Homo sapiens: one gene and its partners. The protein of the gene in region 3 purifies or fractionates together with the protein of the main gene of each other region. This does not show direct contact. Each region holds a gene or a part of one and is shown on either strand. Other genes may lie near its edges. The genes, in order: MINDY3, FOXJ3, RFX3, CFAP20, CC2D1B, VPS45 and NUP155.

What was found.
Region 1: the proteins of RFX3 (region 3) and MINDY3 purify together in Homo sapiens (affinity purification with mass spectrometry; one large-scale study listed by BioGRID and IntAct). This does not show direct contact.
Region 2: the proteins of RFX3 (region 3) and FOXJ3 purify together in Homo sapiens (affinity purification with mass spectrometry, with the first as the bait; one large-scale study listed by BioGRID). This does not show direct contact.
Region 4: the proteins of RFX3 (region 3) and CFAP20 purify together in Homo sapiens (affinity purification with mass spectrometry, with the first as the bait; one large-scale study listed by BioGRID). This does not show direct contact.
Region 5: the proteins of RFX3 (region 3) and CC2D1B purify together in Homo sapiens (co-immunoprecipitation; one large-scale study listed by IntAct). This does not show direct contact.
Region 6: the proteins of RFX3 (region 3) and VPS45 purify together in Homo sapiens (affinity purification with mass spectrometry; 2 studies listed by BioGRID and IntAct, with this or other methods). This does not show direct contact.
Region 7: the proteins of RFX3 (region 3) and NUP155 purify together in Homo sapiens (affinity purification with mass spectrometry, with the first as the bait; one large-scale study listed by BioGRID). This does not show direct contact.

Annotation. Positions count from the first base shown.
Region 1 is NC_000010.11:15,780,503-15,784,483, reverse strand, and holds part of MINDY3 (ubiquitin carboxyl-terminal hydrolase MINDY-3), read left to right. Parts: exon of another isoform or gene 1-2,250; intron 2,251-2,257; coding exon 2,258-2,329; intron 2,330-3,517; coding exon of another isoform or gene 3,518-3,607; exon of another isoform or gene 3,608-3,981. UniProt on the Homo sapiens protein: Hydrolase that can remove 'Lys-48'-linked conjugated ubiquitin from proteins.
Region 2 is NC_000001.11:42,332,070-42,336,749, reverse strand, and holds the start of FOXJ3 (forkhead box protein J3), read left to right. Parts: upstream 1-1,514; 5' UTR 1,515-1,691; intron 1,692-1,794; exon of another isoform or gene 1,795-4,680.
Region 3 is NC_000009.12:3,256,852-3,260,832, reverse strand, and holds part of RFX3 (transcription factor RFX3), read left to right. Parts: intron 1-3,633; coding exon 3,634-3,842; intron 3,843-3,981. UniProt on the Homo sapiens protein: Transcription factor required for ciliogenesis and islet cell differentiation during endocrine pancreas development. Essential for the differentiation of nodal monocilia and left-right asymmetry specification during embryogenesis.
Region 4 is NC_000016.10:58,112,780-58,116,405, forward strand, and holds the end of CFAP20 (cilia- and flagella-associated protein 20), read right to left. Parts: intron 3,374-3,626; coding exon 3,262-3,373; intron 2,679-3,261; coding exon 2,490-2,678; intron 2,277-2,489; exon of another isoform or gene 2,142-2,276; coding exon 2,031-2,141; intron 1,252-2,030; coding exon 1,246-1,251; 3' UTR 813-1,245; downstream 1-812. UniProt on the Homo sapiens protein: Cilium- and flagellum-specific protein that plays a role in axonemal structure organization and motility. Microtubule inner protein (MIP) part of the dynein-decorated doublet microtubules (DMTs) in cilia axoneme, which is required for motile cilia beating.
Region 5 is NC_000001.11:52,355,894-52,359,874, reverse strand, and holds part of CC2D1B (coiled-coil and C2 domain-containing protein 1B), read left to right. Parts: coding exon 1-170; intron 171-340; coding exon 341-416; intron 417-517; coding exon 518-625; intron 626-717; coding exon 718-848; intron 849-1,116; coding exon 1,117-1,189; intron 1,190-1,413; coding exon 1,414-1,544; intron 1,545-1,958; coding exon of another isoform or gene 1,959-1,976; coding exon 1,977-2,094; intron 2,095-2,176; coding exon 2,177-2,349; intron 2,350-2,748; coding exon 2,749-2,874; intron 2,875-3,432; coding exon 3,433-3,491; intron 3,492-3,572; coding exon 3,573-3,689; intron 3,690-3,981. UniProt on the Homo sapiens protein: Transcription factor that binds specifically to the DRE (dual repressor element) and represses HTR1A gene transcription in neuronal cells.
Region 6 is NC_000001.11:150,077,629-150,081,609, reverse strand, and holds part of VPS45 (vacuolar protein sorting-associated protein 45), read right to left. Parts: intron 3,942-3,981; coding exon 3,831-3,941; intron 269-3,830; coding exon 134-268; intron 1-133. UniProt on the Homo sapiens protein: May play a role in vesicle-mediated protein trafficking from the Golgi stack through the trans-Golgi network.
Region 7 is NC_000005.10:37,304,903-37,308,883, reverse strand, and holds part of NUP155 (nuclear pore complex protein Nup155), read left to right. Parts: intron 1-1,451; coding exon 1,452-1,587; intron 1,588-3,673; coding exon 3,674-3,827; intron 3,828-3,981.

The DNA of each region.
Region 1 (3,981 bases), on a different chromosome or scaffold from region 3:
TATGAGCCACCTCACGAGGCCCAGTAAACATTTATTTAATCAGCCACAAATAAATGAAGTTGCAAAACTGGAGTGACAAGGACAGCCAGGAAAATATTTAACTTCGGTAATCTTTACAATGCTTCAAGTAGGTCCTGTGGAAGAACACTTATTTGCTATGATGTAGAGGCTGATGCAGGAAGAAAAAAGTGGTAATATTTATAAGCTTTTCAAGACCATTCGTTTAAATAAGAATAGCAGAAGCAGCTCCCCTTTCCCAAGCACATACTCTCCATCAGGCACTGTGTGCCTTCCAAACACCATACTATTATCTTCCCCATTTTGACAATGAGGAAATTGAGGATTAGAGAACTTAAGACGATTGTTGAAGGTCATACACTAGGTATCTTAGTAGCTGATTCAGGAATTTTTTGACAATGAGGAAATTGAAGATTAGAGAACTTAAGACAATTGTTTAAGGTCATACACTAGGTATTTTAGTAGCTGATTCAGAAATCCAATATAGTCTGTCTAACCACAGAGTCTATGCACTTTACCAGTGGGCTACACTACTTTTTGTTGGTATTTCTGTATTTTATGCCAGTTAATTACTGGAAATAGGGAATATAAATTATATTCAGTTACAGGAAAATGGTTATTTAAGTTCAAATAATTTAACTCTGATAGCCAAGAGTCAAATTATGTAACTAATTGCAATGACTCCTGTAATTAAGGAAACGATCAAATTGATTTTTCTATTTTCTGTAAGGCATTTTGAGTGGGATACAAAACAATTTTAGGCTTTAGTTGGGAATGTAAGACATGAAAAATTAAACAGTCTTTCAAAATAATAGAAGAGATGATACAAAGTAGTACTATATGATTCCTTCTCAAATTATTTAGACAATTGTTATGATAAAGGTTAAGTTCCAGTGTAGTAAAAAACTAACTAGTGTGTCCAGGAAAAACTTTACAGAAAAAGTAAGATTTAAACCAGGTCTGGAAAAAGGAAGGAGAGGAGGGCATTTTAGAGAAGAGTAAAAAAAAATCATGAATGTGCAAAAGGCCAACAAAAGATCTTTTCATGATGAAATGAGTCATGCTTGTCCAAAACAGAATTCAGAAAGGTGAGTAGTTGGAGATAAGACTAAAAAGGTAGATTAAGCCCTGTATGATTTTAAGACTCATGATTGCAGGTCACAGAACCTCAGCCTAAATTGGCATAAGTGAGGGGGAAAATACATGAAGGGGAAGGAGTAGCTCAGGTGAATTGAAGAAGCAAGCACCGGGAAAGTGCTCCTGGAGTCCTTGAACAGCACTGGGAGGTCTCCACCTCCCATCCCCTGTCTCTAAAGTGGCTACATTCTCACAGCCTATCTTTCTGTAGGAGCTGAAGCTCCAGTTGCCAGCAGCTGTCTTCCCTTAATTCCAGTTGGAAAAAATTCTAAGGAGGGCCATGTGCCTGTTTGTATCCATCGGATATGGCCAGGAAGACAAGGGGGATCTATCCAGGCAGACTCAGCCAGGGGCCCTGAGGGAAATCACTGGGAGCCAGGCCTGTAATGGCCTTGAACGCCAGGTTAAGAGGGTTGAACGTGATCTTTAGCTAATTGAAAAGCAAGGTTAAGATAGTGGGAATAACATGACCCATTTTTCTACAAGCTTACTCTGTTAGTGATATATAGGATATCCTTTCTTTATTGAATATTACTGAAATCGCCTTAAGCATTATAAGTATGTTTTCATTTCTCACAGTGCTCTTTTCACTAATTAATGGTTGACAATATTCAAATATTGGATATTTTTTGGAAAAGAAACCACTAATTAAACATCGTGGGCCAAATTGGAAGTATTGGTACATACTGGAAGTGTATTTAGTCTGAGTAAAAGTGATGCTACTGCTTTTCTCAATTCATTGAGAGGAACAAATTATTTACATAGAAAAGGAGATATACTTTAGCAAATGTTTTAGAAGCTTGTCTTTTGAAAAAAGTTATAGTGATACATGCACATAATTAAAAAAAAAATAAGTTAGTTCTGAAGAGCTTATAATGGAAATCAACCTTCCCTACTTTCCAGCATCTTCTTCAGAGGCAACACTTTCAACTTCAGGGCTTTCTGGTAGTTACAACTCCATAAACCTAAGTTCCTTCTTTTGTCAAATGAGTCCCCAGTCAAAGGATAAGGATTTGAGAAACATGCATTTTACTTTCAGTTGATTAGAAATTGCCTGATATAAATATAATTTAAAGTGTTAATAGTCCTTTATTTATAATAGGGCTCCAGTGGTCCAGAATCTTTTACTGTCTACCACTACAATGGATTGAAGCAGTCAAATTATAATGAAAAGGTATGATAATTCACGTAGTCGTCGGTGTTCAACTGGGTTGATGAAATAATTATGTGAGTATGTAACAATGTTCGATTCCCGTACAATTGCTACCTAAGATTATTCCAGGAGTCTCTTTACTATGAGGACACATTTTAGAATCAGCCATCTTTGGATTTGACCAGTATATGTTAGTCTGCATTGGAAACTGACATTGGACTTCAGAGCAGTAGTTTCACCATGACTAAATACACCCCCATACAGATCGTTACCCTTGGCAGTGTAGCGTGTTTCTAAATCAACATCGTAGTTAGTCCAGTGAAAGTTGTTACTTATCCATTTAAAGGAAGAAAGAGGTAACAGTGAGACTTTTTACTGGAAAAAATATTTTTAAATAAATAACCTTCATAGTCAGCATATATTGAGCATTTACCCGAAATTGTATTAAGTACTTTGCTTAAGTTTCACAGCACCTTATGAAGGAAGTGTTGTCTGTATATCTCCATTTTACAGGTCAAGCAGCCAGGAAATGACAGAGCTGGGAGTGAAACTTAGTCCAGCTCAGAGACCATGCTCCTACCCATGATGCTTTGCAGCTTTCCTTTGCTAACCGTTGACAAAGCACATAGGTGATTCACTGCCAGGTGTACTCAACCTGGCGTAAAGCTAGAGTTCGGCTGCATTGATTTCCCCTTTTTGTGTGTCTATTATCTTTGCATTTATTCAAGTATGAGTTACAGTACATACTAGTTATAGTATATATATATATATATAATATATATGTATTAGTTATAGCTAATATTAAAGGAATAAGGTCTAACATTCCTTTTTAATTTGATCTGCCCATGCTGACTTCATGTATCTAAATTGTGGAAGGTTACAGAAAACAGTGTAAATTAAGTACATAATTTTAATTAGACCAAATCTAAAAGACTAAAATTTACTGCTATCTTTATAACAAAATATAAATTAGATGTTTTTGTCAGGTCCAAAGATATATATATACAGCATCCAAATTTTCTTGACAATGTATATTCTTTGCATGTATATATATATGCAAACTTGGATGTTGTTTTCTAATGTGCGAATGAGTGCTTCATCTAGAGTTTGATGTTTGCACAGCTTTGTAATAGGAGGTACTTTATAATCACTAATTATTCACCTACACAATCCCTGCAAGATAGGTCAAATATTATCCATATTTTACAGATGAGGCATCTGAGACGGGGAGATCAAGTGACTCACCCAGGGTCACACAGCAAGTCATTGGCAGAACAGGGATTGGAACTGAGTTCCTGATTCCCAATCCTGTCCTTGGTCTGCTTGGCCACTCTACCTGTATGTAGTATAAGTTTTCAAATCATGTTTGTGACAAGCTTCTGACACACCAACAAAAAGATTAGAAAACAAATAGGATGAACTGTTAAAATGACAGTAATATACAGCAGCTATAAAGCAAAGTATGGATGTCATTAAGTCACAGAAATATGTTTTGAAGTTAATCAGGAGCTAAAATTATAAGCTGCATAGCAAGGTCCTGTTAGAAAGGAAACAGACAAAAGGAGAATGCTGGCAAAGTGAGATGGAGTCTGAGCCGCCAGGCATCCGAGCCTGATTGAGGCCATGGAGGTGGGTCATGGCACCTTGCCCAAGCACTTCTGCTCTAATGACAT
Region 2 (4,680 bases), on a different chromosome or scaffold from region 3:
CTACTTAGGAGGCTGAGGCAGGAGAATCACTTGAACCCGGGAGTTGCAGTGAGCTGAGATCGCGCCACTGCACTCCAGCCTGGGCGGGAGAGCAGGATTCCCTCTTAAAAAAAAATTGCAAACCCCCTTCCTCCAGTTTTCCTCATACCCCTTACCCTGGTGTATTTTTTTTTCCCCATATGCCTTCTAACATATTACATAATTCTCTTACATTTATCATCTTTCTCCTTATATTAGAATGAAAGCTCCAACAGGGAAGGGTATTTGTTTTCTCTCTCTCTTCTGTTTACTGATACATCCCAAGCACTAAAATAGTGTCTGGCAACCTTAGTAGTGATTGGCAAATATTTGTTGAGTGAATGAGTACATGAATCTTCAGAATCTTGCTAGTCTTATAAAGAAAAGGAATATGTGAATACTTTGAATCTCCAGTGCCTAGAAATGCTTGACCAAACGGCAGGTGTTCAATGTTTACTGAAGGAATTGTGTGCTCAGATCTGCTGGAGGTCTTTATCTGAACCCTTTGAGACTATGTCAAAAAAGTACCCAGGGCCAATTCACTCATGCCTCTCCTTTTCCTCTCATCCAATCAGCCTAGTATTCATCTAACAAATATCTAAGTCTCCAAATATTGAGCCACCCATTGTGAGTTCAAAAGCGTGTTTGGCGCTGCAGGGGAATATGTGACTAACGCGAATGAAGCAACAGCAAATACTACACTGGAATGTAATTAAGTGTGAAATTATAGGGCAGATTATCAGTGCTAATAGTTTAGAGAAAGAATCAGTGAAGACTGACGTAGAAGTAAATTCCAAAGTTCACTCGTCGACCAAACTACCCTTCTAAACGCTCCACCTACTGATAGTAGTACCATAACCTGGGTAGCTACCTTGAGAATTAGAAGGGCCTTTAGAGGTCCAACTCCTTTAAGAAAGAAAGAAAGACCAGGCACGGGAAAGGCCTCCGCAGACATGAGTCTAGCACCTGGGACTCATGAAGTTCTGAAAAGAGGGGTGTCCTGAAGGTCCAAGGCGCCTTTGTTGGGGGTCCCGGAATCCGCGGTGTGCCAGGTCGGAAAAGGCGTCCGCTTTCCTGGAGAGGAGGCTAAGGTGCCGGGCGCTTCGGTGAGGTGGCGGATGTTGGGGGGCGGGGGAGGGCAGAAGGCACCATTCCTTCGGGGCATGGGGCCCCAGGTATCCGTGGGCAGGGTCCAAAGCCACCGATCCCTACTGTCCTCAACTGCGGGGTTGCCTCCGCCGCCTTTGCTCCCAGACGCCACTCCGAGGCACAAGGACCCCAAGTCGCTCGGAACTGCCGGCCGCTAGATGACACCGGCTGCGCCGATGCAGAGCCTCGGGAGTCTCAGGGCACTACTTGTCCCAGCGGAGGGATCCTGCGTGCGTCGAAGCGACCGTGACCGCGCAGGGACTTGACGCCGCTGACGCCGGGCCGGCGGCGCAGCGACGCCGCAGGAGGCGGTGGCGGCGAGGGCGGGCGGGGGATGCGGGTCGGGAAGTAGTTCCGGGTGCGCGGCCCCGGATGTTGGCTGCTCTTGCTGCCGCCGCCGCTCTCGGGGCTGCTCGGGGCCTCGACCGCTCGCAGTAGGCACCGTTGGGACCTTTCCCGGGGGGGCGGAGACGCACGGAGCGGCCGGGGGCTCGGCCGGGCCGTCCCGGCCTGCGCAGCCTGAGGTAAGTGCCCCCCGCCAGGGCGGCCGGGCCTGGGCGGCGGGCGAGGAGGCGGGGCTGTGGCATCTCCCGGGACGGAGGCAGGGGCTGTCCTCCGCGAGACGCCCTCTCTCTTCCAGCCGCAGCCGCGTTGCGGGGTGGGCGGCGGGTGGGGCAGGGGGCCTGGGCCCCGGCTGGGGCCTGGCGGACGCCGAGGGCTGGGTCCTTCCCTCCCCCGCGGCGCTTCTCAGCTGCTGCTGCCCCTCAGCTGGGAAGCAGCGGCTTCGCGTCTCCCGCCCCTCCCCCAGGCGGGGCACCGGGGAACCAGACGTGGATCCCGGGGGCGCCTAGTCCGAGGGCAGCGACCGTCTCCTTCCCTCCATGACCTGTCCCTTGGCCTGGGCTAGCCCCCGACCCCGGCACTCTGCGGCTTCTTCCCTTTAAGCTTGGGGGCGCTTTTCTGCCGGCAGGGCGGGCTGTACCTCACGCCTTGGAGTGGCCCTTTGGGGAGAGGAGGCCCATGCGAGGGTGCTTGCGTTCCCGCCCATCCTGTGTCTGTGTCCTTTGCTGGGATTAGGGCAAAGGCAGCCGTTCCATGCGGACGTGTTGCTGTCCTGTGTGTGTTGCATCCTGCCCACGTGGTAGAGTGTCTCCCGCCCCCCCTCCCAGCTCCATTTTTGCAGCTGGTGAGGAGGGAGGTTAACGGGATGGTTTTTCCTCTGTGATTTCCTCCGGGTGGCGTGGAAGGTGTTAGGGTCAGTTTGCTTTGCCGAGGCCGGCTGTTGGTTAGATGAAGAATCGAGAGTTGTACTCTGAAATTGAGGCCAGTAGGGGACATAACAGGGCTTAGTTTCATTAACATCTTTTTTCCTCTTCCATTAGCTGCTCTTATTCTTTTCTCTGTTGCTTAATTATAGAGAATAAGCGCTTGCTACCGATGCATTCAGGTGTATAGTTTTCATTTCTCTGTTTTACTTTTTGTGTGTCTGGTTAGCAAAGGTTTTACTATTCCGTGTTGGTGCATTCCACGTCTGTGTTGTCCCTGGTTGGATTCCTGAATGAGTTAGAGCCATTCACTCTAATTCCTGAAGGAGTTAGAGATTGGTGGGCACCTTTTTGGTCTTTTTCTGAGATTTATTTGTGTGTGTTTTCTTCCTTCTATTTTGTTTCCCAGTGAAAAAGCGTGATGTCATAGGAGCGTTATATGCATAGCTCTTTTTCTCACAAGGCAGCACTAGTTTCACCTAGTCACTTATTTTGTAGAAGCTCTTTTACTTCACTTTTCCTCTTACTCTGTTGAGTACCCATTGCACACTCTTTTTTTGAAACTGGTTTGAAACATGGTTTGAGTAGTTTTTTTCTTAATGTCTCTTCCAGATTAGGGTTTCCATCTTCTGTTTTGCTGTTTTGAGACCACAGATTGTTCCCGCAATAACAGTGAGAGAAGCCTATTCCTCCTGGTCCCTAGCAAATATTTATAGAAAAGCAGTAACTCCTCTCTTTTTCTGAGTGGTATATATTATATAGACGTGATTAAGTTTTTTAGTTTCTTAGATAAATAGGAGGATTTCTCTTTTTGCTTTTGTGTCTCAGAATTGAGGTGAATCTTCTTGGTTTTGTGCTGCCGAGGACAAAACTGGGAAGTTTCTCATGCTTTCATTAGATTTTTTTTGGATGAGGCTAGAACGTGTTTATTTTGGCTCTTTTTTGTTCATTAGTTTGGGTAAAATAAAAAAACTTAATGTTTCAAAGTCACTTACTAGATTCCAAAGTGGCCTGCATTCTCACTTTTTCACATTGTACATTCTTTGAGTATATTTTTGACATTTTTTTCCTTTTATCTGGTACAGTTCGTATATTCCCTTTCCTTCTATGTAGAATGAAAATATTTAAATATAGATTTTAGATTATATTTTTTCATTATGCTAAGTATGGGTGGGGCAGTGGAAAATGGAGAATGTTGTTCTGATACATACTGAGGCTTTTTGTTTTTTTTTGGTAAGTCAGCATTTGTGTACTTCTGTAAAGTACCGAGTTATCTATGTGTGAAGTCTGTATGAAGAGACGAATAAGATACGTGGTCTCTTGGAAAGCTTCAACTTATATCGAAAGAACAGAGTTTCTTTTTCTGTTCGGGAAACATGTACATCATTCAGAATTATCAAACTGCATCAAACTTCTCCTTGGGATAACAGTACAACCAAGGTCAAAAGTGTAAGGGACATTTGAGAAAGATACAAATTTCCAAAGGGAAAGAGGTGTATTTCAGGAGAGTGAAGGGGCCTGTGCAAAGCGAGAGAAGTGGCAATGTACAAATGATATCAAGGAGCTTGACTGTCAGATCATCTGTGTTGGTGAATAATAATAAATGAGTTTAGGATTGGTGAGGGGGTATTGATGGAGGATCTTTCAAGGATAGAGGGTTTAGTTTGATAGGGTACCACAATGGGTTCTAAAGAATGAGAGTAAGATGATGCATCTTGTTCCTGAGGAAGGTTTTTGTTTCAGCTGAGTGTCCTGGGAGTGGAGAGACTGATTAGAGTGCTTATGGAGAATTTTAGGAATAAGCTGATGAGGGTCTGATATAAGATAGTGGTTGTAGGAATAAAATAATAGCTAACATTTACTTACTGTATGACAGGTATTCTAAGCGCCTACGTTTGTTTAATTCATTAAATCTTCATAATAAGGTATTAAAATCAGAAGGGACTTTGGGCAAGTTGCTTAACCTTATGCATGTAATTATTCCCATATACAATGAACGGTTAGATGAAAGGTAGATTTTGCACTGACCAGGGATATAGATGCTAGTAAAACACATCAGTAGATGTGTGTTGGGAGGGTAGTAGTATAATGAAGAAAGAGCTTTGAGGTTTGGAATTTTGGGTCTTGAAATAGGCTAATAGCATTCTGAGAAGAACCAGAAAGTGCATCATTTCCAGGATAGGAAGATTTTCTACAAGGGCAGGGTGTTGACAGTTTCAAATGCGGTGTAGAAGTTCAGAAACAGTGA
Region 3 (3,981 bases):
GTTTTAAAAAATATCATCTATCCATCTAGAAAAACACATACACACATACAAGTACATAATCTTTACAAGAACAAAGTTTCTCAGCTTTACAAAACCATTTACTTTACATATTTCCGTGGGATGTATTAACTGAATAAGCAAGAGTATTAAAAGTTAATATTGCCTTAAAATCTATACTGTAATATTTATTTCAAATCTTTTTTCAGAAAAGATTTGTTTAAAAGTCTCTTAAGAAGAGTTGAAGAAGTAAGGCAGCTTCTAGTTTCAGAAAGTAATTTAAACTCAGTAACAGAAAACATTTTAAAGAATTATTTATAATAATATCCGAAAAAGTTTTTCAGTGTTCTGTTAGCATTATTATATGTATAAATACATATATATATATTTGTGTATCTGCATTCCAATGAAGTATTTCTACAAATGAGTTCTTCCCTGGTTATAAGCATTAACCTTGGGAACATTTTTGCATATTAATGATCAGTGATATGTCTACTGTACGACTTATCCTCTACCTGCCAACTTTAAGAATACCCTTTCTTTTCCTCTATTTTTGACTATCATGTTTTTCTGGGTCCACCATGATAGCCATTACTCCTGAAACCCATATGATTCGGCATCTGCCCTCCAAAACCTTCTTCCTTTCTTCAGAGTACCATGACACAGTAGTGAGCCCTTCATTTCCCCCTACATTTTACTTTTCACAGCTCTGTACATATTAATGAGTAATCTCTTTCTCAAGGTAGCACTTTTCCTCTTTAACACCCTTATTTCTTTCCTTTTCTTTTCCTAGTTTTGCCAGATTTTCCCAGAGTCCCTTGCCTCCCATTTTACCTTTATCCCCATCTCCAGTTCATTTGGAAGTCGTCCCAGCTTCTATAACATGAACCTCAATAATCTGACAATATAAGAATGATGCTCTTGTAATAAGGAGACTTCTATTTAAAACAATGAAATTACATGTGTGTCAATATTATAATACACTTAAGAGCTTGAAAGTGCTAAAAAGTTCCTTTCAGGATATCCATATATCACTTTTCACTACTTCATTCTCCTCTAATTAAATTTTCTTTTCTTTATGCATTTAAGATAATTTTTCTATTGCAGTATAACTGGTTTCCTGTTTCATTTAATTGATAGTATTACGATGGCATAATTCTCTAATTTTTTGTGTAAATGGTGGTTTTTGAGATCTACATTATGGGCTAAATAGCTTTCGGTGGGCTGACCTGATAACTTAGCTATTGCATATAGTTGTGTTTCTGTATTTAAAAGGCATTCTGATTTTGAAGTTCCTGACTACTTTTCATTTTGGATATTTTTTTTTTCTAATTTAAGAACATCTCTAAGTGTCCTTAGCTTTTTTAATTATAGACTTGAAATATCTACATTCGTTTCACAAGGGAATATTTACAATGCGCTCTATTGTTAGTATATTTTCACTTTAGAGAGTAGTAAAATGAAGTATAATATAAAGTAGTTTGAAAAGCCAGAATAATGTGCTGTGGTTTTATTTCTCTAAGTTAGGTTTTAGATTATCATCTTTTCTTGGCAAAAACTAACTGCCAAGTAAATAGTGAGTTTGAATTTATGGTAAGAAATGAAATTAAATTCCTTCATGGATACTAGTAAGTTTCTCCTTCCAATTATCAACGTGCAAACAAACAAAAAAAACCTCTCCTGCTAATTTCAGCTTTATTTGTAATACTAAAATGTTGGAACAAACAAATGTCTAACTATGTGGGATTGGTTATGTAAATAATAGTATATGATGCAATAAAACAAATTCATTCAGTGGACAATGAAGATAGGTCTAATTTGCCTACATGGAAAGATGGTTATTAAATATTTCTAAGTGAAACTAAGCAGAATATCTAATAGAAAATATAATATGATCCTCTTTTATTTTAAACATTTAAGTATGTATAAGCATATAATAATATAAAATGTATGTGTAGATATATGTGTTTTATAATACAAATATATATTTAAAATATAAATGTATGCATAAATAATATAGTGTATATATATGATGATATATGCATAAATTATTTCTATATGCATGTGAAAAGTTTGAAAGGTACATACATCAATATGCTGTAATTTCTTACTGTTGCCATTTTAAGTATTCTTAATGTTTTGTTCCTTTTTTGCTTATTTGTATTCACAGTTTTTTCTATAATGATATTTTAGTATACTTAAAATATTTAAAAGTGGTATTCAGAAGGTAACATCTGAATGGATTTATGATTAATTAGATAAGAGGAAAAAAGACAGTGAATAGTATCATCAGCTGAGATATAGAAGAAACAGTAGGTTTCCCTGGGAAAATAAAATAAGTTGAGTTTGGGGCATTTTGCATTTGAAGTGCCTTCAGGTTGAAATGTCCCTTGAATAGGTAAAGTCTGTAGGATCAGGAGAGATACTGGAACTAGAAGATGGAGATAATGGATTTATTCAGTTGAAGTTGTTAATTTGAATGAACTTGTTTTTTGAGAGCATATAGAAAAAGAAGCTATAGACACTCTTTTGAGAAAAATACATATGTATTCACAAGGTTTTATTAGGAGCCTCACAGACACTTCTCCAAAGAAATCTATCTTGACAAAATTATCTGGACACAATGAACCCAGCTTAAAATTTTTCATTAAATTTCATTTCTTTAATTTTATGCTTAGGGAAACTGAGGCCCACATAAATTAATTGCTTGAGGTTAGTTTTGTTTATTCAGGACCTAACACCTATGTCTTCTCATTCCCAGTCAAATATTACGTTACCAAAGAATTATGTTTTGCCTTGAGTGAATAGGTTTTTTTAAATCTTAAAATACAACATAGCACTGGAAACATCACAGTACTTATGGCAATCACTGAAAAGTAGCCTTAAAAGTTCCTATTTTCATTGCTGTTACCAAACATTTCCCAACCAGAACCAGAAGGAAAATTGCAATAATCACATTTTTTGGCAGGAAGCACGTCTACATTTTCTCAAGAGTTTTTGTTGTTGTTGTTATTGTGGTTTTCATTTCTCTGAATTAATTTGCATTCATAGCCTTGCCTTGATAGCCCTTGAGATTTCTGTTCCCAATCCATATAACTCACAGCAGCATATGCTTCTACCTAGTATCATTTAGTGTTTGTTTCTGTTTTAATCTTGAGGGGACCTCTTTTGGCCAATTTTATCTATTTATCTGTCTGACTTACCCTAAATCTTCTCAAATAAATTGGTTTTAAAGTTTTATCTGATGGGGAACAAAAAGACAACTTCTGAAAGCAGTATGAAAGCTGAATAGGATGAAAGACCCTGCCTACTGTAGGTTCAGACTTCTATTTTTTGAAGTCATCATGTATTTTAGTCTTTTACACAGACTAGTTAATGTAGAAAAACCAAATGATACTTACATGTGTCATCACTTTTCTGTGTACCAGAGTGAGCAACGAGAAATACTCATCCCTTAAAACTGATAAAGATTGTGTTACCCTAACAATTGACAAGTAGTTTTTTATTTTCTGGATTCATTTAACTGTGTGAAGCTTTTATTATAATTTTCTGTTCTTGCATCTAGTGTGTGTGCTGGCATTCAATGAAAGGATGCTGAATTGAACTTTTCCTTTTCTTTCTGTGTTACTGTCTCAGGAGCAGGCTTCCTGGGTGTGCCAGTGTGATGACAACATGGTTCAGAGACTAGAAACAGACTTCAAGATGACTCTTCAGCAGCAGAGCACCCTGGAGCAGTGGGCTGCGTGGCTTGACAATGTGATGATGCAAGCACTGAAACCCTATGAAGGAAGACCCAGTTTTCCTAAAGCCGCCAGGCAGTTTCTGCTAAAATGGTCTTTCTACAGGTATCATCTAGGTTTTTCCTAGGCTTTCTTCTTCATATTCTGCAAATATGTGTGTGTATGTGTTTGTATATGCTTCTGTGACAAAAGAAAAGAAAGTAATAAAGACTTTAGTTTGTGGAAACTCCCTGTTACAACTACC
Region 4 (3,626 bases), on a different chromosome or scaffold from region 3:
TCAAAAAAAGAAACATTTTTCTTTAAGTCCCTACATTCAAGGCCAGTAGTACTTCAGCGGGAACTCAAATAGAGAAATGGTGATCTGCTCCAATGCTTTAGGTGCAATTTAGACTATGTCATTCTGTCTTAAGCTCAACCTAGGACCCAACCCCTAGCAAGATGATTCCACTGGTCACATACTATTTTTTTTTTCCCATTTAGTCTTCAAAGTTGTTCTGAACCAGTTTATACAGTTGACCCTTGAACAACTCAGAGGTTAGAGGCACCGACCCCCTTATGCAAAAATCTATGTATAACTTTTGACTCTCCCAAAGCTTAACTACTATAGCCTTCTGTTGACTAGAACCCTTACTGATAATATAAACAGCCATTCAACACATATTTTGTATGAATTACATACTGTATTTTGTATTCTCACAATAGGGTAGGCTACAGAAAACGTTATTAAGAAAATCATAAAGAAGAGAAAATATATTTACTATTCATTAAGTGGATCATCATAAAGGTCTTCATCATTGTTGTCTTCACATTGATGAGGAGGGGAAGAGGAGGAGGTGGAGGGAGAGGAGGAGGGACTGGTTTGTTGTCTCAGGGGTGGCAGAGGTGGAAGAAAATCCTCATATAAATGGACCCGCACAGTTCAAACCTGTGTTGTTCAAGGGTCAGCTGCATAATATGTCTTGTTCTTTAGATACTTAATACAAGACATTTCACAGCATGAAATGTATAAGATGTTCAATGGAAATAGTTCTCTTTTCATATCACAAAGGAAACAAACATCACCATGAAAAAAGACAAACTAGGAACAAATTTACAAACCAGGAATATATCACTTTATTCATTTCCAGATTATGAGTATGACACAGCATATACATATATTTAGATAATATATAAAACATAGAATAAACCGCAGGAAGAAATATTGGTCTGGAATTCCTTATGGGCCATCTTTAATTCTGTAAGTTCATGGTAAAGGTATCTCCCCCCACACTGGGGCAGGCGGCGGAATAAGCTCCAGCGTTCATGCGCCACTCACAGGACTGCTTACCCCCACTGCACTTACAATGCAGTCACAGAGTTACGGCATGTTCACCGGTGTCCATGACAAGCAACACCAAGTATAAATAACAGAACTACAGCAGAGCAAACTAAGATAAATATGTTTTTGCATCGTCCTCCACATAGTTTCCTTTTAAAAAGAAGAGTCACATCCAGGGGTCTATCCCTCGAGTCACAATTCCAGTTATTGCTGAAGGGAAAAAACAGAGAAGTGGCATCAGTTTAAGTTACTAGAAAATAGATGGTCAGTGTCACAGGCCCCCTGCCTCTGGTGACACTTGAGTGGACAGTGACTGTGGAGAATGGACACACATCTGCAGCACACAGGCAGGGAAGCACCCACCCTTGTGTTAGCAGGGACCTATCAGCTGATAATACTTTTGGGCTGATTAAGAGTTAAGATGGGGCTGGGCACGGTGGCTCACGCCTGTAATCCCAGCAGTTTGGGAGGCCGAGGCAGGCGGATCACTTGAGGTCAGGAGTTTGAGACCAGCCTGGCCAGCATGGTGAAACCCCGTCTCTATAAAAATTAAAAATTAGTTGGGCATGGTGGCAGGCGCCTGTAATCCCAGCTACTCAGGAGCCTGAGGCACAAGAATCCCTTGAACCTGGAAGGCAGAGGTTGCAGTGAGCTGAGATCGTGCCACTGCACTCTAGCCTGGGCAACAGGGCAAGACTCCATCTCAAAAAAAAAAAAAAGTTAAGATATTTTCTGAAGTTCTGTGAGCCAGTAGTAGGAAGTGCCTCATCCCCTCTCACCGTGGAGAGGGGAAACAGCAGTAACAGAGTATTTCACAGGAGCATTCCTGATTCAGTGCTGGAAGGAGACCTAAGATCTTGCGATATAAAGGCACCCCAAAGTGTCAACACAGAGAGGCTCTGCAGCTGAATTCTTAGACCAGAGCACCTTCCAGGAACACAGCTCCCCCCACTCACTGGTGGACCTTCCTCTGGGGAAGACTGGCTTACCTTTGCCTTGTTCTGAACTGGGAGATACAGTTTGAACTCTGCCGGCAGCTCATCTTCTGAGTAGAGTCTGTCTGAGAAGTAAACCCGTCGGATGCGACAATTTGCATGGATCTGTCAAGGCAATGCTTCTTTTGAGAGGCGAAATGTGACTGTTCTCCCCCTTTTCCTGAATCTTCTAGAGGCCCTCTTCCAGGACTGGAAACGCGTCATCTCCGGCATCTCCTTGGCTTGTCTTAGGGATGGATTCTGGCAAGAGGGAGGTCTTACTTGCTGTATTCACCTCTATACCTGACCCGACTTCTGAATATTTCCTGGACCTTTGTGAGGCCAAAGCTCCCTGGACAGTGTGGCAACTGAAGCCAGAAACCCACACTGTTCTGCTATGTGGGCCACAAGCCAATATTAGACGCAGTGTGCCCTATCCCCAACCCAGGGCTCTATCTGGGAAAGGAGCAGTACCTGCACTCTGAGGGTCTCGATGTAATTGGTGCCGTATGCTCGCCGTGTGAAGTCTAGCAAGTTGAACTGAATCTGGTTCCAGCCGTCATCCAGCCGCATGGGCATGGTGCAGATGAAGGGTTTGACCCGGGTGGTGCTCTGGTAGTTACTTGCCCGAAAGCGACGACGCACATTCTTGTCATCTAGTACCTGTGAAATACAGAGAAGAAGCATCACACTAGCTCTGTCTTGGAAGAAGCACACAACCTTGTCCAGACAAGGACCTGAATTCCCACAGCTTGCTTTCCCAAGGCTGAGACTTAGAGGAAAATAAACAGACCAGACACAGGTCATACACTGCATGCAGATGGCCCGGAAGTAGCAAGTTTATCTTGTTTGTTGCCAAGACAACACCAGCTGCTTATGACATATAACACAGTCAGCAGGCTCTCAGACCATAGAGTATATAAATGTTCTTCCTTTTGAAAAATCAGAAATACTAAAACAGAACAGCCACCCACTATTAAATAATCACTCCCCAAATGGATACCACGCTAACTCTGACACTTTGAAATTACTAGGTTTTCTAGGTGCTGTTTCTTTAAAAACCTGATTAAATTTTATTACTAATATCAAATTTACATAACAAGGACTGCACTGGGCTTATACTAGAAGCAGAAAAGAATACATGCAAAAGGATAAAGATACTTTGTAGGGTCACTTTTTCCCATCAGTTCAAAGGCTATCACTTTGGTATAGCCAAGAGTGGACACATTCATGTACACATACTTACCTGCACTTCGAAGGTAAAATACTTCTTCAGGTTTTTGATAATCATGACAAGGAAAGGAAGTTTAATTCCCAGCGTCTTCTTGGGGTCTGCAGGGCATGTGATATATGTGGTGCTGTAGAGAGAGGAAATACTAATAAACACACTCCTGGACTCTCTTCCTTTGTGGTATGCACAACAATAACACACGGTCCAAGAGGATACACTGGAAAGCAGATCTAAAAGATTCAGACACGCCACCCAGTGAATCCCTCAGCCCTAAGTCAGCGGCTGCTTTAACAAACGCTGGACCCAGAAACAAAAGCTTAACACAGGACTAGACAGCAGCAATAAAATATCTGAAAAACAAAGCCAGACAGTGGATCTTA
Region 5 (3,981 bases), on a different chromosome or scaffold from region 3:
CCCAACCTGAGACCAGCCTCCCTGGCATTTCTGCCCAGCCCGTTTCAGACTTAGACCCAGACCCGCGGGCCCTGCTGTCATCCCGACAGAGAGAGTACAAAGTGGCTGCCCTCAGTGCCAAGCGGGCTGGAGAGCTAGACCGTGCCCGAGAGCTCATGAGGATTGGGAAGGTATGGCATCTGGCTCAGGGCACCCACCCTCATTTTATAGATAGGGGAAACAGGCTCAGAAAGGGAGCTAGACTGAGATTGAGTGAGATTGGCCTAAGTGGGGGTTGTTTCAGCCCAGGCTCTTGGGGTCCCCTGTCTTTCACCCACACCTGCTTTTCCAACTTCTGCAGAGATTCGGTGCTGTCCTGGAGGCCCTGGAGAAGGGGCAGCCCGTGGATCTGAGTGCCATGCCCCCGGCACCTGAGGGTCAGTATGTATCTTCTCAGGCTGCGGTGGGGTTGGGGAGGAGTAGCAGGCCTGGGGCTGGCCAGGCCCTCCCACCTACACCTCTACTCTGGGTCCCCCAGATCTGAAGCCCCAGCAGGCTTCTCAGGCTCCCACAGCACCCTCAGTCATTCCCCCAGCCGTGGAGCGAGTGCAGCCAGTGATGGCCCCTGACGTCCCAGCAACCCCAGGTAGGGCAGGATGGTGGGACTGTGGCGTGGGGACCTGCAGGCATTGGAGGGCAGGCTGACCTGATGCCCACTTCTTCCTTCTTTCCTTCAAGTGGCCCCTACAGAGTCACAGACAGTGCTGGATGCCCTGCAGCAGAGGCTGAACAAGTACCGCGAGGCGGGCATCCAGGCCCGGAGTGGTGGGGACGAGCGCAAGGCTCGGATGCATGAGCGCATTGCCAAGGTGGGCCCGCGGCTATGCAGCCCCTGCCTGTGCTGGCCTCTTCCCTGGCTGGGTGCTCTGTCTCCCTGGTCCTCCGGCTAGTCCTTGTCTTTTCTGAACCATCATCTGTTTGTCTCTCTGGGGCTCTTGCTGCCTTAGGGATCTTTTTTTCTCCCAGGGCTGCTGTCTTCCCACCAGTCTCCCTCTCCTTGCCCCACTGTGTGTCATGTTGGGCAGGGGGCCTGTGGGCTGCTGCCGACCACAGGCCCCTCCCTTCCTTCCCTTGCAGCAATATCAAGATGCTATTCGAGCACACCGAGCAGGACGGAAAGTCAACTTTGCTGAATTGCCTGTTCCTCCAGGTAAGTGGGGCATGGCCTAGGGGCTCTGTGAGGAGGTGGTCCCTGGGCAAGAAGGGAATGGGGGACAGCCAGTGATTCCCACTTCTCATGCGTCTGCCTCCCCTCTGTGGAGCCATCCATCCCAGCCATGCCCCAGCAGAGCCATGCCCCAGACAGGGCCCCGGGTAGCTTTGTGCTTCTCTGAGGCTGCTCCCTGCCCCTCCCATGCTGTCTCTCTCCCACAGGATTTCCCCCCATCCCTGGCCTGGAGTCCACTATGGGTGTTGAGGAGGACGCAGTGGCAGCGACATTGGCAGCTGCAGAGAAACTGGCCTCTGCAGAGGATTCAGCCCCGGCTGATAAAGACGAGGACGAGGTTTGGTTGAGGGCTCAACTCCAGGGCTGGTGGGGAGAATAGCAGGTGAGGGGTAAACCCAGACCCTGTTGTCCATACTAACAAGCCCAATAAGGTACATATTCTTTCCTCCACTGTACAGAGAAAAAACTTGCCCAAGGACACCCAGCTAGGAAATAGCAGAACTAGGATTCAAACCAAGGTCTTTCTGAACCCAGAGCCCCGGCTCCATCCCCATTACCCTGCAGTCTCTCTCCTGCTGGGGAGGTTAGATGTGAGAGCTTCTGAGGCTGCTTCTAGCTCTCAGATCTTTTAGGACCCAGGAAGAGAAGCCACCCATCTCAGGTCACACAGCGATGTAGTACAGTGTTAGGAAGACAGCCCAAGTCTGGGAGCCGCCATGACTATGCTAGGGAACACATCCCCTCCTAACAGCCTCCTGGGCACCTGCAGGGTGAGCCCCCAGCACAGGCCCCAGTGGCCAAGAAACCTGCACGGCCCACAGTCCCTTCATCCCAGCGCCTGCCTGAGCCCAGGGCCTCAAGTTCTAAGGAGTCACCGAGTCCATCTGGTGAGTTGGGGACAAGCAGGGTGAAGAACTGAGGGCCTAGAGAGGGCAGGTGTGGCCCTAACCAGTGGCCTTCTCCCTTCAGTGCGGGAGCAGCTGGCACTGCTGGAGGCACGGAAACTGCAGTATCAGCGGGCAGCCCTGCAGGCCAAGCGCAGCCAGGACCTGGAGCAGGCCAAAGCCTATCTGCGGGTAGCCAAATGGCTTGAGGCTCAGATCATCCAGGCCCGATCTGGCAGACCTGTTGATCTGTCCAAGGTGAGTCCCACCTGGTTAACCACCAGGACTTCTCAGGCGGAGGTGGCGGCTGGCAGGCTTGACAGGCTGTGAACAAGGGCAGCTTCTGGGATGAGGCAGGGTTTGGACAGAGCATGATGACAGCTGGGAAAGAGCCTTTTGCTCATACTCCTCTACCTCACGGCCCCAAAGGAAACCAGGAGAAGGGAAGGTGGGCTGCCTGTGGTCAGAGATGACAAGGCTGGGCCAGGCCATGGGAGGCAAGAGTGTTATTTTGGGATAGAATGGGAGGCGATGAGTTGTCATCACTGGACTTTAGTAGAAGCTGAAGAATTACTTAGTTTGGGCTCCTGCCTTTGTTGGACTTGGTAGAGGAGTAATCTGACTCTTGGGGCCCGAGGGGCCTTGTGACCTGGGTAGGTGCCTTCGCCCTTGACGGATGAGGAGGGTGACTTCATCCTCATCCACCATGAGGACCTGCGACTCTCCCAGAAGGCGGAGGAGGTGTATGCCCAGCTGCAAAAAATGCTTCTGGAGCAACAAGAGGTCAGCAGGCCCCTCGTCTGTTCCTCCCCTCTGTGCCCACAGCCTCCCCGTGGAGGAAGACCTGGAGCTCAGACCACACAGCCCTGGACTCAAAATTCTCAGCTCTTCCACTTACTCACTGTGTGACTTGGGCAAGGCACTTTCTTCTCTGAACTACATTTTCCTCATCTATGAGATGGGGTGATAATACCCCTTTCAGGGTGGTACAAACAACAGAGAAGAGGGAAAGAACATTGTGATGTGCGTGTATGTTTATGTATTTATCTATCTGAACTGCCACCTGTTCTGGAAAGGCTGCCTTCTGAGGGGATGTTTGAGTTAGGTTTTGATGGAAGGAGTTGCTAATTTGGGGAATGGCTCTCCTCAGAAGAGAAAATGACAAAAGTGTAGGCAGAGAAACGTGGTGGGACTTGGGAGTAGTGCCCTTGGGGCTGTGTTGTGGGAGGAGAGAGGTGAGGCTACAGAGGAAAGTTGAAGCTTTGAGAAGTCTAGCCTTGAATGCCAACCAAGGCAGGTCCTGCTCTGGGCTCGGGAGTCACTCTGGGCCTCTATTTTCAGAAGTGCCTGCTGTTCTCCAAGCAGTTCATGCACCAGGGCAACGTGGCTGAGACCACCCGGTAAGTGCAAGGGCTGGGGCTGGGCTCATAGGGTGGGGAGCAGAAAATCCACCATCATGCTGACATACCCATCCCTGTCAGATTTGAGAAGCTTGCTCAGGACCGCAAGAAACAGCTGGAGATCCTGCAGCTGGCCCAGGCTCAGGGCCTCGACCCTCCCACCCACCACTTTGAGTTGAAGACATTCCAGACTGTGAGGTACCAAGGCCTAGGGAAACAGGGGCTCCAGGCAGGGAGGGGCAGGAGGCTGGGAGCCCAGGCCAGAGACTGCTACCCCTTTAGTGAGGCTTCCCAAGCCTGGCCCCGCTGTGGGCACTGGGGCTGCTGAGGACGACAGGGTGCATGCTAGTGGAGAGCGCACAGCTGTCTGGGTGCTGTGGAAAGAGCTCTGGACCAGAAGTCAGAGATCAAGGTCTGCATACCAGCTCTGCCTTCCCTCCCGTCACCACCCAGCTGGGCAGACAGGCCCTGGACGAAGGGACCTTGTTCC
Region 6 (3,981 bases), on a different chromosome or scaffold from region 3:
GCAGTTTATGCACAGGATGCCCCTATCATCCTTTCACATGAAATCCCATGCCTGCCCCTATACTAACAAGCCAATATTGATCTTCTTACATAAAAACAACTAAAGACAATTTAAAAAAATTTAAACCACCTACATTAGCATAGAATTCATCATTTTCAGCAGATAGGACCACTTCTCTTAAGTCTTTACTGATTCCCGGCACTCTGGAAAGATCAATCCGATTGTTGTTTATGCCTAGTAGTTCGTGGACCATGGCCTGATATGTCCACTAAATAAAGAATTATGAAAAAAAAAGGTAACTGACAGAATATGGAAATAGTAAACGTTCAGGAAAACAAATAAAAACTGATAACATTCTTTAACTAGTCTTCTTTACATGAAGATTCTCGAGTTAAATTTTATTCATACTTTGTGCTATAAGCATTAAGACTGTCATTTTAATTGATTAAACACTGAAGAAAAGTCAAAATACTTTTAGATTTCATACTTTTGGAAAAAGGGCAGCAAGATTAATATTCTTGATAGAAAGAAAACAAATTAGAGCTATTATTAGCTCCAATTTTTTGCCTGTGAATTAAGAGTATATTTTTGGCTTCACAGATAGAGCTATATTGGTACTGCAGTTACAAGCTGTACCATTTCCTGTATGCTTCTATGGTTTTCTGCAGCATGAGAAGTGTGTTCTTGCAGATCTGAGTGGTACTATATTTGTCCTGGGAACACTAATATTATCAGAAAAACCTTGTGAGTTGATCAAAACACTGGGATATTCAGAAACTTACCTTTGAACCCATTTTATTTTATATTTTTACCTAAGGGGAGATGAGAGGAAGGACTGGTTTCCAGTCTCACAAATTGAGAATTTATTTGGTAAAACTGGAAATGAGAAATCTCCAAATTTTCCCTTTTCACCAATTATGGAGAATAGATTACTTTCAGTCATAGGTCTGTTAGACAAAATGAAGTATTTTCTAGCATGTTCCCTTCTGCATCTAGAATCTAAATGCTAGAAATATTTATATACATATTTTATCTTAAGAAAACTAGATTTATTAAGAAATAATTTAGAAGGTTATAAAAGAAGGTGCTTATTTCCTAAAAGATTTGCCAAAGGAATTCTTGAAAAAGCAAGTTCCATTAAGTCGCACTTAAAATAAGTACAACAAGGCTGGGCATGGTGGCTCATGCCTGTAATCCCAGCACTTTGGGAGGCTGAGGTGGGTGGATCACTTAAGGTCGGGAGTTCGAGACCGGCCTGACCAACATGGTGAAACCCCATCTCTACTAAAAATACAAAACTAGCCGAGCATGGTGGCACATGCCTGTAATCCAAGCTACTCAGGAGGCTGAGGCAGGGAATCACTTGAACCCAGGAGGCGGAGGTTGTAGTGAGCCAAGATCACACCATTGCACTCCAGCCTGGACAATAAGAGCAAAACTCCATCTCAAAAAAAAAAAAACGTACAACAAAATGTTTTATGCTTTTATGGATAGCTTCTTGTACATGCTTCTAGCACTTACTCTACAATTAAAATTATGTTTATTTTTCTCATAATTGGACCATGAGCTCTTTGAGGACAGAAATTGTAACTTTTAACCTTTTATCTCTAGTACTTAGTTTAGTACGTGGCACAAAAGAAGTCCCCAGTGAAATCTGTGGGATAAATAGTTGCTTTTCTTTGGGAGACAGAATAATAGGCAATTAATTTTCTTTCTACTTTTTGATATTATCAAAAGTTTCTTTGGTGAACATATATTACTTTGAATTTTAGGAATACAAGGCTATTTTATACTACAGAGAAGTTTCACTCCACAGATTTCCCTTAGCATTAACATTAGTACAAGCTGGGAAGAAACTGAAACATAGACTGTGCCTTTCTCTGTAAATACAAAGTCACAGCCGGGCGTGGTGGCTCACGCCTGTCATCTTAGCACTTTGGGAGGCCGAGTCGGGCAGATCACTTGAGGTCAGGAATTCGAGACCAGCCTGGCCAATATTTAGACAGAAACCTTGTCTGTACTAAAAATATTTAATACAAAAATTAGCCAGGTGTGGGGGTGTGCACCTGTGATCCCAACTACTCAGGAAGCTGGGGCATGAGAATTGCTTGAACCTGGGAGGCGGAGGTTGCAGTGAGCTGAGATCACGCCAATCTGGGTGACAGAGAGAGACTCTGTCTCAATAAATACATACACACATACAAAATCACTATTAATAGAGCACCCGCTATGTGCACTGTTCTTATACTTGAAGGAGAAAAAACACTGGTGAGACTCAGTCTGCCTTGAAGAAATATGTAACGTAGGAGAGGATGTAAACAACCAAAGCTACAACATGGCAAGTACAGCATGAGACATGAGAGAGACACAAAGGTCTACAAGTCTACAGGGATTTTCAGGAGATAAGAACAATATCTGACTGAAAGAATACAGGCTTCGAGATGTTGAAGAATGGCTGGATGTTGGAGATGGCTTTTGAGTGTTTTTTTTTTTTTTTGAGACAAGAGTTTCGCTCTCGTTGCCCAGGCTGGAGGACAGTGGCATGATCTCGGTTCACTGCAACCTCTGCCTCCCAGGTTCAAGTGATTCTCCTGCCTCAGCATCCTGAGTAGCTGGGATTACAGGCATCTGCCACCACGTCCAGCTAATTTTTTGTATTTTTAGTAGAGACAGGGTTTCATCATGTTGGCCAGGCTGGTCTCAAACTCAGGACCTCAGGTGATCTACCCACCTCGACCTCCCAAAGTGCTGGGATTATAGGTGTGAGTCACCGCGCCCGGCTCTTCTTTTTTTTATTCTTTGCTATTATTCATATAAATCATTTTATTTATTTATTTATTTATTTTTGGAGACGGAGTCTTGCTCTGTCGCCCTGGCTGGAGTGCAGTGGCATGATCTCAGCTTACTGCAACCTTCGCCTCCTGGGTTCAAATGATTCTCCTGCCTCAGCCTCCCAAGTAGCTGGGACTACAGGTGTGTGCAACCACACCCGGCTAATTTTTTTGTAGTTTTAGTAGAGACGGGGCTTCACCATGTTGGCCAGGTTAGTCTTGAACTCTTGACCTCAGGTGATCCAGCCACCTTGGCCTCCCAAAGTGCTGGGATTACAGGCGTGAGCGACCGTGCCCGGCCAGATTGAGTGGTTTTAACAGCAGTATTTTGATAGGTGAAGATGGGAAGAGAAGGTATTCCAAACATTCTAGAGTTTAGAAAGCAGTCACAGTAAAAGCATGCTGGCAGGAAACCATGTGGCATTATCTATGTAAGTGGTGAACTCTAGGTTTTATAAGAGGTTTAGCCCACATTGTGAAGGCTCTTGGATGCCAAGTTCAGGAGTTTCTTTTTAACCTAGTAGGCAAATGGGAACCAATGAAGTTTTTTAAGCCAAGAGTAATAAGATAGAGCTGTGCTTTAGGAAATTGTACTTGTGGAACATTTGGAGTGAGAAGAAATAAAAAGTAGGGAACGAAGTAGATGACTATTTCAATATTCTTGCAAGAGATTAGGATCTAGACCAAGGCAATGGCTGTAAGCATGGAAATGAGGAGACAGAAGGAAACACAGGGAAATAGAATCTACAGAATTAAGAAGCTGTCTTGATTAGGGGTGGAGGTACTGGCAGAAAGGTACAGGAGAGATGAAGCAGAAGAGTTATGATGACAGTGGATGGAAGAATCATGATACCAAAACACCAGGAAATACAAAGCAAAACCAAGAATAGCTAAAAATAAGGAGGCAAATAAATGGACCATGTTTTTACTTCCCTATCTGTATTTTGATGAATATCACTTAAAATTATCCTTCTATTATGCCAAGAAAGGGTTTTGTACCTGGTTTAGCAATGGGGTGATGGCATCATCACAGCGATCTAAAATAAGGAGCAATGGAGGAACCTCTGTCCGACGGAATTCAAACAGTTCATATTCTTTAGTTATCACTTGCTGTGGGTGAGAGAGAAAGATGGTTTGTGCAACCATCTAG
Region 7 (3,981 bases), on a different chromosome or scaffold from region 3:
TTTTTTTTGAGAGTCTCGCTCTGTCAGCCAGGCTGGAGTGCAGTGGCACGATCTCAGCTCACTGCATCCTCTGCCTCCCAGGTTCCAGCAATTCTCCTGCCTCAGCCTCCCGGGTAGCTGGTATTACAGGCGCACGCCACCACGCCCAGCTAATTTTTTATTTTTTTATTTTTTTATTTTTTTTATTTTGAGACAGAGTCTTGCTCTGTCACCCAGGCTGAAGTGCAGTGGTGCGATCTCAGCTCACTGCAAGCTCTGCCTCCCAGGTTCACGCCATTCTGCCTCAGCCTCCCAAGTAGCTGGGACTACAGGCGCCTGCCACCATGCCCGGCTAATTTTTTTGTATTTTTAGTAGAGATGGGTTTCACCATGTTAGCCAGGATGGTCTCAATCTCCTGACCTCATGATCCACCCACCTCAGCCTCCCAAAGCGCTGGGATTACAGGTGTGAGCCACCGCGCCCGGCCATTGCCCAGCTAATTTTTGTATTTTTAGTAGAGGTGGGGTTTTACCATGTTAGCCAGGGTGGTCTCGATCTCCTGACCTCAGGTGATCCACCCATCTCAGCCTCTCAAAGTGCTAGGATTACAGACATGAGCCACTGCGCCCAGCCGAAATGTATAACTTTTTAGCATTAGAGTTTCAGTTCTTGTCCAGTTCAATTACTGTATGTTTTACATTGCTTTCTGGATTACATTTATTTTTCAGATATTTAAAATTTTTTATTGAGTTTTAAGGTATAATCTGCTTACTTTTTAAAAAATTACTTTAAATCAAATCTAACATAATGTAAAGGCCATAACTATTTGCACAGGTATTATTTTGAATCCCAAGGTATTTTTTTCCCCCCAGTAGGGAACTAAAACTTTCCTTTTTGTTATTTGAAATAGGATCTTTTTTTTCCAATGAAGAAATATATATATATATATATTTTTTTTTTTCCTTTTTCTTTTTTTTTTTGTGAGACAGAGTCTTGTTCTGTCACCCAGGCTGGAGTGCAATGGTGCAATCTCAGCTCACTACAACCTCTGCCTCGCTAGTTCAAGTGATTCTCCTGCCTCAGCCTTTTGAGTAGCTGGGATTACAGGCGCATGCCACCAGGCCCAGCTAATTTTTGTATTTTTAGTAGAGGTGGGGTTTCACCATGTTGGTCAGGCTGGTCTCGAACCCCTGACCTTGTGATCTGCCCCCTCTCAGCCTCCCAAAGTGCTGGGATTACAGGCGTGAGCCACCACACCTGGCCCCCAATGAAGAAATATATTTAACAGTTGCCTTTTAGGCATATTAAGACCTTTTCCTTCTGAAGACCTATCAGAAATATTTTATGTTAGCAGGGTGACTATTGTACAGTAGAGACATAACCTTGATCATTATTTTCATGTGCCAGCTAAGGAAAAATGTATCCAACTTAGTAGTAAGTCATAGGTCTTCATTCTTTTCTTTCCCATCAGTGAGATTTTATGAGGGTGTGGTGGAACTTTCTCTTACGGCTGCAGAGAAAAAAGATCCTCAAGGTCTTGGGCTTCATTTCTATAAACATGGAGAACCAGAAGAAGACATAGTTGGACTTCAGGCCTTCCAAGAAAGGTGCATTCCATTACGTTAGCAGATTGTCATCTTTATGGATACAGACTTTTCTTTGCATAATGTTTTTTGTTTTTTGTTTTATGTTTTTTTTTTTTTTTTGAGACAGAGTCTTGCTCTGTCACCTGGGCTGGAGTGCAGTCGTGTGATCTTGGCTCACTGCAATCTCTGCCTCCCAGGTTCAAGCTATTCTCGTGCCTCAGCCTCCCATGTAGCTGGGATTACAGGTGCACACCACCACGCCTGGCTAATTTTTGTATTTTTAGTAGAGACAGGGTTTCACCATTTTGGCCAGGCTGGTCTTGAATTCCTAACCTCAAGTGATCCACCCACCTCAGTCTTGCAAAGTGCTAGGATTATAGCCATCAGCCACCGTGTCTGGCCTCTTTGTGTAAAGGTCGACCACCCAAAGTGCTGGGATTACAGGCATGAGCCACCATGTCCAGTAGGATTTCATTTTAAAGGATAATTTTTAAGTATTCCCAAATTTGTTGAGACTGTTAAAAAGGAAATGTGTGTCCTTAAAAGAAATATAGGCCAGGCACAGTGGCTCACGCCTGTAATCCCAGCACTTTGGGAGGCTGAGGTGGGCAGATCATGAGGTCAGGAGTTCGAGACCAGCCTGGCCATCATAGTGAAACCCTGTCTCTACTAAAATACAAAAATTAGCCAGGCGTGGTGGTGCACACCCGTAATCCCAGCAACTTGGGAGGCTGAGGCAGGAGAATTGCTTTAACCCGGGAGGCAGAGGCTGCAGTGAGCTGAGATTGCACCACAGAACTCCAGCCTGGGCGTCAGAGCAGGGCTCCGTCTCGGAACAAAGAAGAAATATATAACCTTTCTATAACATATATATATGGAGGGTGTTTTGTTTTGTTTTTGTTTTTGTTTTTGAGACAAAGCTTCACTCTGTCTCCTGGGCTGGAGTCAGTGGCACCATCATAGCTCACTGTACTCTTGACCTTTTGGGCTCAAGTGATCCAGTGATCCTCCTACCTCAGCCTCCTGAGTAGCTGGGACTACAGGCACATGTCACCACACTCGGCTAATTTTTTTTTTCTCTTTAATTTCTGTAGAGACAGGGCCTCACTATATTGCCCAGGCTGGTCTTTAACTCCTGGGCTCAAGCAATCCTTTCTTCTCAGCCTCCCAAAGTGCTGAGATTAGAGGTGTCAGCCACCACATCTGGCGAAAACATATTTTTTTATTACTATATTTAATGACTTTACCCTTTTAATGTTTAACCAAACACTTCTCAAACTTATTGAAAAAGTATATGGTTTGTATTATTTTAAATGCCAAATATGTACATCTATTCTGCCAAATAGTCTTGAAATCCTTGTATATACTTAGGTAAGGTAAATCAATGGCTTTCTTTTTTGTTATTTGTTTTGTTTTGTTTTTGGGGGGTTTTGTTTTTTGTTTTTGAGACAGGGCCTCATTCTGTTGCCTGAGCTGGAGTGCAGTGGCATGATAATAGCTCACTTGCAGCCTTGAATTCCTAGGCTCAAGCGATCCTCCTGCCTCTGCCTCCCAAGTAGCTGGGATTACAGGTGCACACCGCCACGCCTGGTTAATTTTTTGTTTCGTTTTGTTTTGTTTTTTGTTCGTTTGTTTTTTGAGACAGGGTCTTGCTGTCACCCAGGATGGAGTGCAGTGGCATGATCTCAGCTCACCTCAACCTCTGCCTCCCAGGTTCAAGCAATTCTTGTGCCTCACTCACCTGAATAGCTGGCACTACAGGCATGCACCACCAAGCCCGGCTAATTTTTGTATTTTTGTCAGATACGGGGTTTCACCAGGTTGGCCAGGCTGGTCTCAAATTCGTGACCTCTGGCAGTCCCCCTGCCTTCGTCTCCCAGAGTGCTGGGATTACAGGTGTGAGGCACTGTGCCCAGCCAATTTTTTTGTATTTTTTGTAGAGACGTGGTCCCGCTCTGTTGCCCTGGCTAGTCTTGAACTCCCAGCCTCAAGCCGTCCTCCTACCTTGACTTCCCTATGGCTGGCATTACAGGCGTGAGTCACCACACTTACCATCATTTGCTTTCTAGTTAAATAATGTAATTGTTCCTTTTCCATTTTCTTTCAGATTAAACAGTTACAAATGCATTACAGACACACTTCAAGAACTGGTAAATCAAAGTAAGGCCGCTCCTCAGTCTCCCAGTGTACCCAAAAAACCTGGTCCTCCAGTGTTGTCATCTGATCCAAATATGCTGAGTAATGAAGAAGCAGGACATCATGTAAGGGACATAGTATATTTTCATTCTGAGAATACACTGTTTAGAAGTTCTCCATGGTAATGGTAGCACAGTCATCTTGGGGAAAGGTGGTAGTTCTTAGAAGTTATCATGTAAGGATTCTTGATTTCTTACTGGAGTTTATAGGGCTAAAGGG